Regions from separate parts of the Homo sapiens genome. Here all the other regions are linked to region 1. Evidence: fine-mapped expression QTL. A gene starts in region 1. Each other region holds a variant in brackets. All regions are shown on one strand. Distances are from middle to middle. Region 1 holds the start of SERPINB6 (serpin family B member 6). Region 2 overlaps MYLK4 (myosin light chain kinase family member 4). Region 3 has its middle 27 kb from the start of SERPINB9.

Region 1 (2,743 bases):
ATGCAGGCAGCTGCAGGGCTGTCATTAGGCACGAGAGCATCCCAGAAAGCAAAAGTGCCCAAAAAATGGACTCAGATGCCCCCTCGCATCTGAGTATTCCTGACAGCATGTGAACATTAATTATTAATTTTCTGTACCTCAGTTTTCCGAAGCCAATCTTTAGGACAAAAAAAAAAAAAAAAAAAAGGAAGAAAATAACTTAAATGCCAATTTGTAGTTAAAGTTTCCTCTTTGCCTTGAAGACATCAAAGCCTGTAATAGTTTGCCTGTAGGGAGTTTAATTCAAACACAGAGCGGTAAGGAGATCCGGGCTGGTCCACACGATCGTCTCCACAGGTCTGGGCGACCTGAAAGTGCTGCGGATTGGCCAAGCCCAGCACGGCCAGTCCAGTGAACACACGCAGGGGGCCCGGATGGCACCGTTTGGCGCCGAACCCCTCGGCCTCTCTCCGCCTCCCGCCCGGCTCCTAACACCCGGCGCCCCAAGACTGAGCACGCGTCCTCCGGGTCGCGGAGCGGGCGAGGGGTCACCGAGGCCGCGGGGCCGACCGGGGTCACCTGTGGCCCGGGAGGCTCTGCGCCGCCCCCATCCCGCGCCGGCCGCCTCTTCCGTGGGCGCTGGGCCTGGGCGCCCGGGGTCCTCGGGTCCGCGGCGTCACCGGCCGGGCTCGCGGCCACGCACGACTCACCCGGCCGCGTCGCCGTTCTCTGCCGCTGCGAGGCTCCGGAAGGGAACCCAAGCCGGACGCTCGCCCGGGCCCCCGCCCCGCTGGGACTGCTGGGGTCACAGCCCCGCGCGGCCACGCCCCATTCTCGGGGCTCCAGCGTCCCCGCGCGCCGTCGACCCACGCGCGTTCCCGGCCCCGCGCGACCCCCACCCTGCCCCCCTCCCCGCTCGCGCCCCCGGCTTTCCCGACTTTGGAGCGACAAACCCAAGCCAGCGTGTCCGAGCGGCTCCCAAGCCAGACACGTACTCCAGAGCGGGGAGCGAGCGAGCAGAACGGCGGGCAGAGGCGCCGGAGCCGCCCCGGACCTCAAATACTCGCGGGGAGGCGGGCGGAGTCCCGGGTCTCGAGCTACCGTCGCCCGTCCGGAGCGCGAAGGGAGAGGCGGGGCGGGACGTGCGGGTCAACCCCACCCGCCAGCCGGAGGGGCCGCGAGTCCTGCCCGGAGGCCTTGACTTTGACCACAGTACAGGGCCCCACCAGCGTGTTTATGGTGCCTCTGTGGAGACTGAATGCTGGCCTGTTTCCAGAAAAGGGCCGGCTCCTGATACACGGCCATCCACTGGGGAGTGCAGAACACGCATTTAAAAATGAGCAGACTAGATACAGGTCACAAAGACTTTGCTGATGAAACAGCTTGCGGCAAAGAAGCCAGCCAGGGGCGGGCGCGGGGCTCACGCCAGTAATCCCAACACTGGGAGGCCGAGGCAGGCGGATCACTGGAGGTCAGGAGTTCCAGACCAGCCTGGCCAACATGGCAAAACCCCGTCTCTACTAAAAATACAAAAATTAGCCGAGTGTAATGGCGCGTGCCTGTAATCTCAGTTGCTGGGGAAGCTGAGGCAGGAGAATCACTTGAACCCGGGAGGCAGAGGCTGCAGTGAGCCGAGATGGCGCCACCGCACTCCAGTCTGGTCCGTCTCAAAAAAAAAAAAAAAAAAAAAAAAAAAAAAAGTAGACTAAATAGCTTTTGCAAAGCAAAAGGAATAGTCAAGCAGAGTAAACAGACAACCTACAGAGTGGGAGAAAATCTTCACAATCTATACATCCGACAAAGCAGTAATATCCAGAATCTACAAGAAACTCAAACAAATTAGCAAGAAAAAAAAATCCCATCAAAAAGTGGGCTGGCATGAATAGACAGTTCTCAAAAGAGGATATGCAAATGGCCAACAAACAAGAAAAAATGCTCAACATCACTAATGATTAGGGAAATGCAAATCAAAACCACAATGTGATACCACCTTACTCCCGCAAGAGTGGCCTTAATCAAAAAATCAAAAACTCAAAAAATAATAGATGTTGGCGTGGATTTGGTGAAGAGGGAACACCTCTACACTGCTGATGGATAGTACAACCACTGTGGAAAATAGTATGGCGATTCCTTAAATAACTAAAAATAGAACTACCATTTGATCCAGCAATCCCACTACTGGGTATCTACGCAGAGGAAAATAAGTCATTATACAAAAAAGATACTTGCACACGCATGTTAATAGCAGCACAATTCGTAATTGCAAAAACATGAAACCAACCCAAATGCCCATCAATCAAAGAGTGGATAAAGAAACTGTGGTATGCGTATACGGTGGAATGCTACTCAGCCATAAAAAGGAATGAATTAATGGCATTGGCAACCTGGATGGGATTGGAGACTGTTGTTCTAAGTGAAGTAACTCAGGAATGGAAAACCAAACATTGTATGTTCTCACTCATAAGTAGGACCTAAACTATGAGGATACAAAGGCATAAGAATGATACAATGGACTTTGGGGACTTGGGGGAAAAGGGTGGGAAGGGAGTGAGGGATAAAAGGCTACAAATTTGAGTTCAGTGTATACTGCTAAGGTGATAGATGCACCAGAATCTCACAAATCACCACTAAAGAACTTACTTGGCAGGGCGCAGTGGCTCATGCCCGTAATCTCAGCACTTTGGGAGGCCAAGGCAGGCAGATCATGAGGTCAGGAGTTCGAGACCAGCCTGGCCAGCATGGTGAAACCCCCGTCTCTACTAAA
Region 2 (2,761 bases), 230 kb before region 1:
GAGCAGGAGTCTGCCAGTGGCCTCCCCGGGTCATCACGAACCGGATCAAGCACCAGAGAACTGAAGACGAGAGAAGGCACACGCTACCTACAACCCAGACGTCTTTTCTTCTGAGTGTGAAGTCCATTCTTTGGGAGCAGCTGTGGATGTTGCTTGGCTTATATGTTCCTTCCCTGCCCTGATCTAGCACCAGCACTTCTCAAGCAGTGTCACCCTTTGCTCTGCCCTGAGGAGTGGGTGTCACCGAATTACAGAGGGTTCTTGCAGAGTCCTGCACTGGACGTCTCCAGTTACGTGATCAGCAAATAATCTGCCTCTTTAAAAGGAAAAATACGATGGCCTTGTGTGACAGATCTGAAACAGGTGTAGGGGCATTGGGAGACTGCTGGCAATAATTTACGACGCTGTGAATGCGTATTTGTTCCCAGTTCAAGGACAATTAGCACCACTGTATCTGGCAACTGCTGGCTGCCGAGGCTGGGCCACTGCCAGGGAGCTTTCTCCTGCCCTTACAGGGTGAGGAGCACAGGGATGGAGGTGGCGAAATGCAACTTGAAAAATCACAAAACCTCTGCCCTCAGCCTTGTTATTTTGAGATCTAAGTTATAGTCATTACGGATGGTGCTGATGGTACAATTTCACAGCAGATGGTCAGGAAATGCCACCTGGTGTTAAATCCACCAACTGCAATCAAAATAGGAAAATCCACACTTTACTCCAACCCACTGTCCCTCTGCACATCCTGTTAATAAATATTTTGCTTTGCTTGGTCTTGGGAGCATTTGTACCGGGCATTTAAACACTCCAGGGACAGTGGGGTCCCGAGTCTGCTGGGGCCATGCTTGTTTCTACCCCCACAGCTTTGGGATACCCCCTGGTTGGGATATGGAAGAACTTAAGCCAGGTTTTAAAAAGGAATTATTCCCTATGAAGGAAGGCTTTCAAACACAAATCAACAAGGGTTAGGATAAATTCAGAAATGATTTGCTTAGGGGTCTTCCAGGCGCGGATGTGGAACGGTGGGCTATGCTGACATATTTTTGTAGAGTGAGCATTCACAACCTGTGTCCTACTTTTATACTTGGGACCATGCCTTTTGGATGGAGGATGAGTAACTAGGGGTGAACAGGCAGGTGGGGAAAACCA[A/G]CGGAGGAGGAGGAGAGCACAGACAACCCCGGGCCTCAGGAGCAGGGATGGGGGTGGTACACCGAGGAAAGCAGTGAGAAGCACGCAGGGCCGAATGGTTGGCTGAGAATATCACCAGGCACATTTGTGTTTCATTAAGCAAAGGGGTGTGGGGGTGTATATGAGACAGAGATCCTACTAAATATTCAAGTAAATCTGGGGGAAATACAACACGAGGGCTATTTACTATATAGATAACAGAGAACTGACAAAAGAAAAAAAACCCAGATTCAACTGTACAAAAATAATACTAATTATAGTTATGAAACCTGTTCATCATTTATAACTTAATGGTATGGACACAGTAGCTATCGAGCTCATCACTCATATGAGTCAGACCAATTTGGTCTTGTAAATTTTACTTGATTTCAACACCACACCGTGTACGTATGTTTAGATCTAGTTTATTATGGCATATGGTTATCTGCTGAAAACTTTTAAAATTTTACACAGTAGGTAGAATTTAGGTGATTTTGAACAGCCTTTGGAACATAATAGAATAAGAAAAGTCATTAGAAAACAGAATAAAAAGGAAAGTAGGAAAAATAGGCCACACACAGCAGCTCATGCCTGTAATTCCAGCACTCTGGGAGGCCAAGGTGGGAGGATCACTTCAGCACAGGAGTTCAAGACCAGTCTGAGCAACACATGGAGACCCCTGTCTCTACAAAAAAATACAGAAAGTAGCCATGGGTGGTGGTGCATGCCTAGTCCCAGCTACTTGGGAGGCTGAGGCAGGAGAATCACTTGAGCCAGGGAGGTCAAAGCTGCAGTGAGCTGAGATCACACCACTGCAATCCAGCCTGGGCGACAGAGTGAGAAGCTGTCTCAAAAAAAAAAAAAGAAACAAACAAACAAGAAAAATTAAAAGAACAAGGCCGGGCACGGTGGCTCACGCCTGTAATCTCAGCACTTTGGGAGGCCAAGGCAGGTGGATCATGAGGTCAGGAGTTTGAGACCAGCCTGACCAATGTGGTGAAACCCCGTCTCTACTAAAAATACAAAAAAAAATATAAAAAAAAATGAGTCAGGCGTGGTTGCGTGCGCCTGTAATCCCGGCTACTCAGGAGGCTAAGGCAGGAGAATTGCTTCAACCTGGGAGACGGAGGTTGCAGTGAGCTGAGATCGCACCACTGCACTCCAGCCTGGGTGACAGAGCAAGACTCCGTCTCAAAAAAAGAAAAAAAGAAAAAAAGAAAGAAAGAAAAATTAAAAGAACAAGAACTACTTAAGTAGAAGGAAGAAAAGAAGGCTATGAAGTGTTTCATAAACTCAGTAAAACATAGAGGAAAGAAGGAAGATGGCTAAAAATGAATTCAGTAGAAGAAAAATAAAAGAAATAGAAAAATCTGATTAAGAGCAGGAAAACAAAAAGAATCTGAGTTTTATCAAACTATTTTAACAAATATAAGTTGTTAAATCTATATAAAATTCTTCCCCTATTGGGACTGGAGAGTAGTTCCAGACTCTAAAGAAACTGCACTGCAAGCTTCCAGAACAAAGCTTTCATGTCACCAGAGTCTGAAATTCAGAGTACATTCTTTCCAGTGCACCACAGGGGATGTTTCTACTATGA
Region 3 (2,761 bases), 42 kb before region 1:
AGCCAATCCCGCTGTCTGGTGCCCACAAAAGACATTCACTTGGCTGGGCGCGGTGGCTCACGCCTGTAATCCCAGCACTTTGGGAGGCCGAGGCAAGTGGATCACTTGAGGTCAGGAGTTCAAGACCAGCCTGGCCAACAAGACAAAACCCTGTCTCTACTGAAAATACACCACCAGAGCTGGTGCGCACCTGTAGTCCCAGCTGCTTGGGAGGCTGAGGCAGGAGAATTGCTTGAACCTGGGAGGCGGAGGTTGCAGTGATCCGAGATCGCACCACTGTACTCCAGCCTGGGCGACAGAGCAAGACTCCATTAAAAAAAAATAAATTAATTAAAAAAAGACAGTCAATTTCCCGGACACATACACAACACACAATTACACACAAACCCACAAGAGTGTGTGGCCCAGGCTGGACTGCAGTGGTGCGATCATAGTGTTACTAGAAAAAGAGGTCCTGATCCAGACCCCAGGAGAGGGTTCTTGGATCTCATGCAGGAAGAAATTCAAGGCAAGTCTCAGGGTGCAGTGAGAAGACATTGTTTATTGAAAGCTACTCAGATACAGAGTACAGTGTCCTCAGAAAGCAAGAGGAGGAACTCATCTTTAAGTTTTTCTTATGTAGCAGGTCTTGTTTATGTAAAAGCTAAGCTAAGCCACATCTATGTGTGGGTAGGCTGAAGGCATGACAAAATTTATTATTCTGTTGATTTAAAGAAAACTATCCTTGTGTTTTGTTTTTTTGTTTGTTTTTAGTTTTAGTGTGTATGTACGTAAAAGCATAAATACAAGTATCTTGAAAGCAGCCAGGCATGGTGGCTCATGCCTGTAATCCCAGCACTTTGGGAGACCAAGGCAGGCAGATCACAAGGTCAGGAGTTCAAAACCAGCCTGGCCAAGATGGTGAAACCCCGTCTCTACTAAAAAATACAAAAATTAGCCGGGCGTGGTGATGCGCGCCTGTAGTCTCAGCTACTAGGGAGGCTGAGGCAGGAGAATCGCTGAAACCCAGGAGGCAGAGGTTGTAGTGAGCTGAGATCACACCACTTGCACCCCAGCCTGGGCGACAGAGCAAGACTGAGTC[TCAAA/T]CAATAATTATCTTGAAAGCATATATTGCTATGGGCATTGGGACATCTTGACTTTCTGTTGCTGTAGGACTGTGTCCCTGCAGGTGTCTTTAAGCTGTTTCCTTAAGTGTAAATATCTTATGACCATGGGTGGTGACTGGAAAAGAATGTGCCTCATTAGTCTCAAGATGAAGCTGAACTTAAAATGGCGTTATTCTGGCTCTCCTGGGCTCCCGCTTCCCTAACAATAGCTCGCTTCGGGCTCAAACTCCTGGACTCAAGCAATCCTCCCACCTCAGCCTCCCAAAGCACTGGGATTATATGGGTTGATTTAAATAAAATAAAAACATTGATAAAAGCTTACTAAGCCTTGATGTTTGATTGTCAATCTATGTCTAATTATAATATTTAAGATTTTATATATTTATATTTTTAATTATTTGAAACCAACCAAACCTCTTCTTTTTGGAAGAGTTTTTTGTTTGTTTTTGTTTTTGTTTTGAGATGGAGTCTCGCTCTGTTGCCCAGGCTGGAGTGCAATGGCACGATCTCAGCTCACTGCAACGTCCGCCTCCCAGGTTCAAGCAATTCTCCTGCCTCAGCCTCTCAAGTAGCTGGGATTACAGGCACATGCTGCCACGCTGGGCTAATTTTTTGTATTTTAGTAGAGACGGGGTTTCTCTGTGTTGCCCAGGCTGGTCTCGAACTCCTCAGCTCAGGCAATCTGCCCCCCTCAGACTCCCAAAGTGCTGGGATTACAGGCCTGAGCCACCATGCCCAGCCCTTGGAAGAGTTTTTTAAAGGTTATAAAATTACATTTCCAAGTGTTAAAAATAAGTATATGAGTTTTAACATCATTTTGTAGCAATAACATCATTTAACAAGGGAAAGAAAAACTTTCAAATAGATGTTTTAAAATGATCATTCCACCCTCTTTCAATAAGATGCATCTTTACCTACAAAGGCAATCCATTACAGTTTTTCAAAAATATTTGCTAGGTATTCCACTAATCGCCACTTTTCACAGAACAGGTCATTACATTTGGAATTCTTGCTATTCCAAAAGAAAAAAAAATGTAAATATCAAATTAACCAACCCTCTTTTCAAAGATCATTAGCAAATGAAAGCAGGCCACTGAAGAGAAATGTTGGAGAATGCTTGCTGACCCAGGAATGTGTGGAACCCGGTGGACCTCAATTCGAAAAGCGTCATATTAATTAGTTTGTCGGATTTTTCTGTTTGAAGGAGCTTGTGAGAGAAACATGTGTTTCGGACATGATCCCACCTGGAAGCTGCCATTAGCGTCTCCTTAGTGCCTTGTCGAATGAGAAACCCTATTAATTCCAGGGGTATTACCTGGAAGTATTAAATGACAAGGAGTTGGGTGGCAGTTAGGGAGGCCTGTTTGTCTTCTAAATGTATCCATTCCTTGTTGGGGTGCTCTGACTGCATGCAATGCAGACAGGAAAATTAAATAGGAAATATTAATCCTCATCTCCTCTTGGAATATGGCATGTCAGCAGGATGACCATACAGCATGGCTTGTCTGGGACAGTCCCAGTTATACCTGTTGCCTTGGTGTCCTGCCTGGGTCAGCATTTGTCACAGGCTTTTCATTTTCAATGAAGTGTTGTTAGTAACAGCTACAGGAGGGGGGTTGGCAGGTCTTTACTTTGTACTGTGAGCTCCCACTACA

The links. PIP is the estimated chance that this variant, and not a neighbour inherited with it, causes the effect.
Region 2: its variant is fine-mapped to the expression of SERPINB6 in whole blood (GTEx, PIP above 0.99).
Region 3: its variant is fine-mapped to the expression of SERPINB6 in whole blood (TOPMed, PIP above 0.99).

Annotation. Positions count from the first base shown.
Region 1 is chr6:2,970,559-2,973,301 of GRCh38, forward strand. SERPINB6 (serpin family B member 6) reads right to left here and starts at 1,009. Exons shown (of 7, transcript NM_004568.6): 1 at 975-1,009. RefSeq lists an enhancer at 790-1,314.
Region 2 is chr6:2,743,910-2,746,670 of GRCh38, forward strand. The region is part of intron 2 of MYLK4 (myosin light chain kinase family member 4); the gene reads right to left. Among named protein-coding and RNA genes, the nearest start is that of MYLK4, 5.6 kb to the right of the region's middle. The variant A/G (reference allele first, on the strand shown) is at 1,147.
Region 3 is chr6:2,929,044-2,931,804 of GRCh38, forward strand. No RefSeq gene overlaps it. Among named protein-coding and RNA genes, the nearest start is that of SERPINB9, 27 kb to the left of the region's middle. RefSeq lists an enhancer at 1-405. The variant TCAAA/T (reference allele first, on the strand shown) is at 1,082.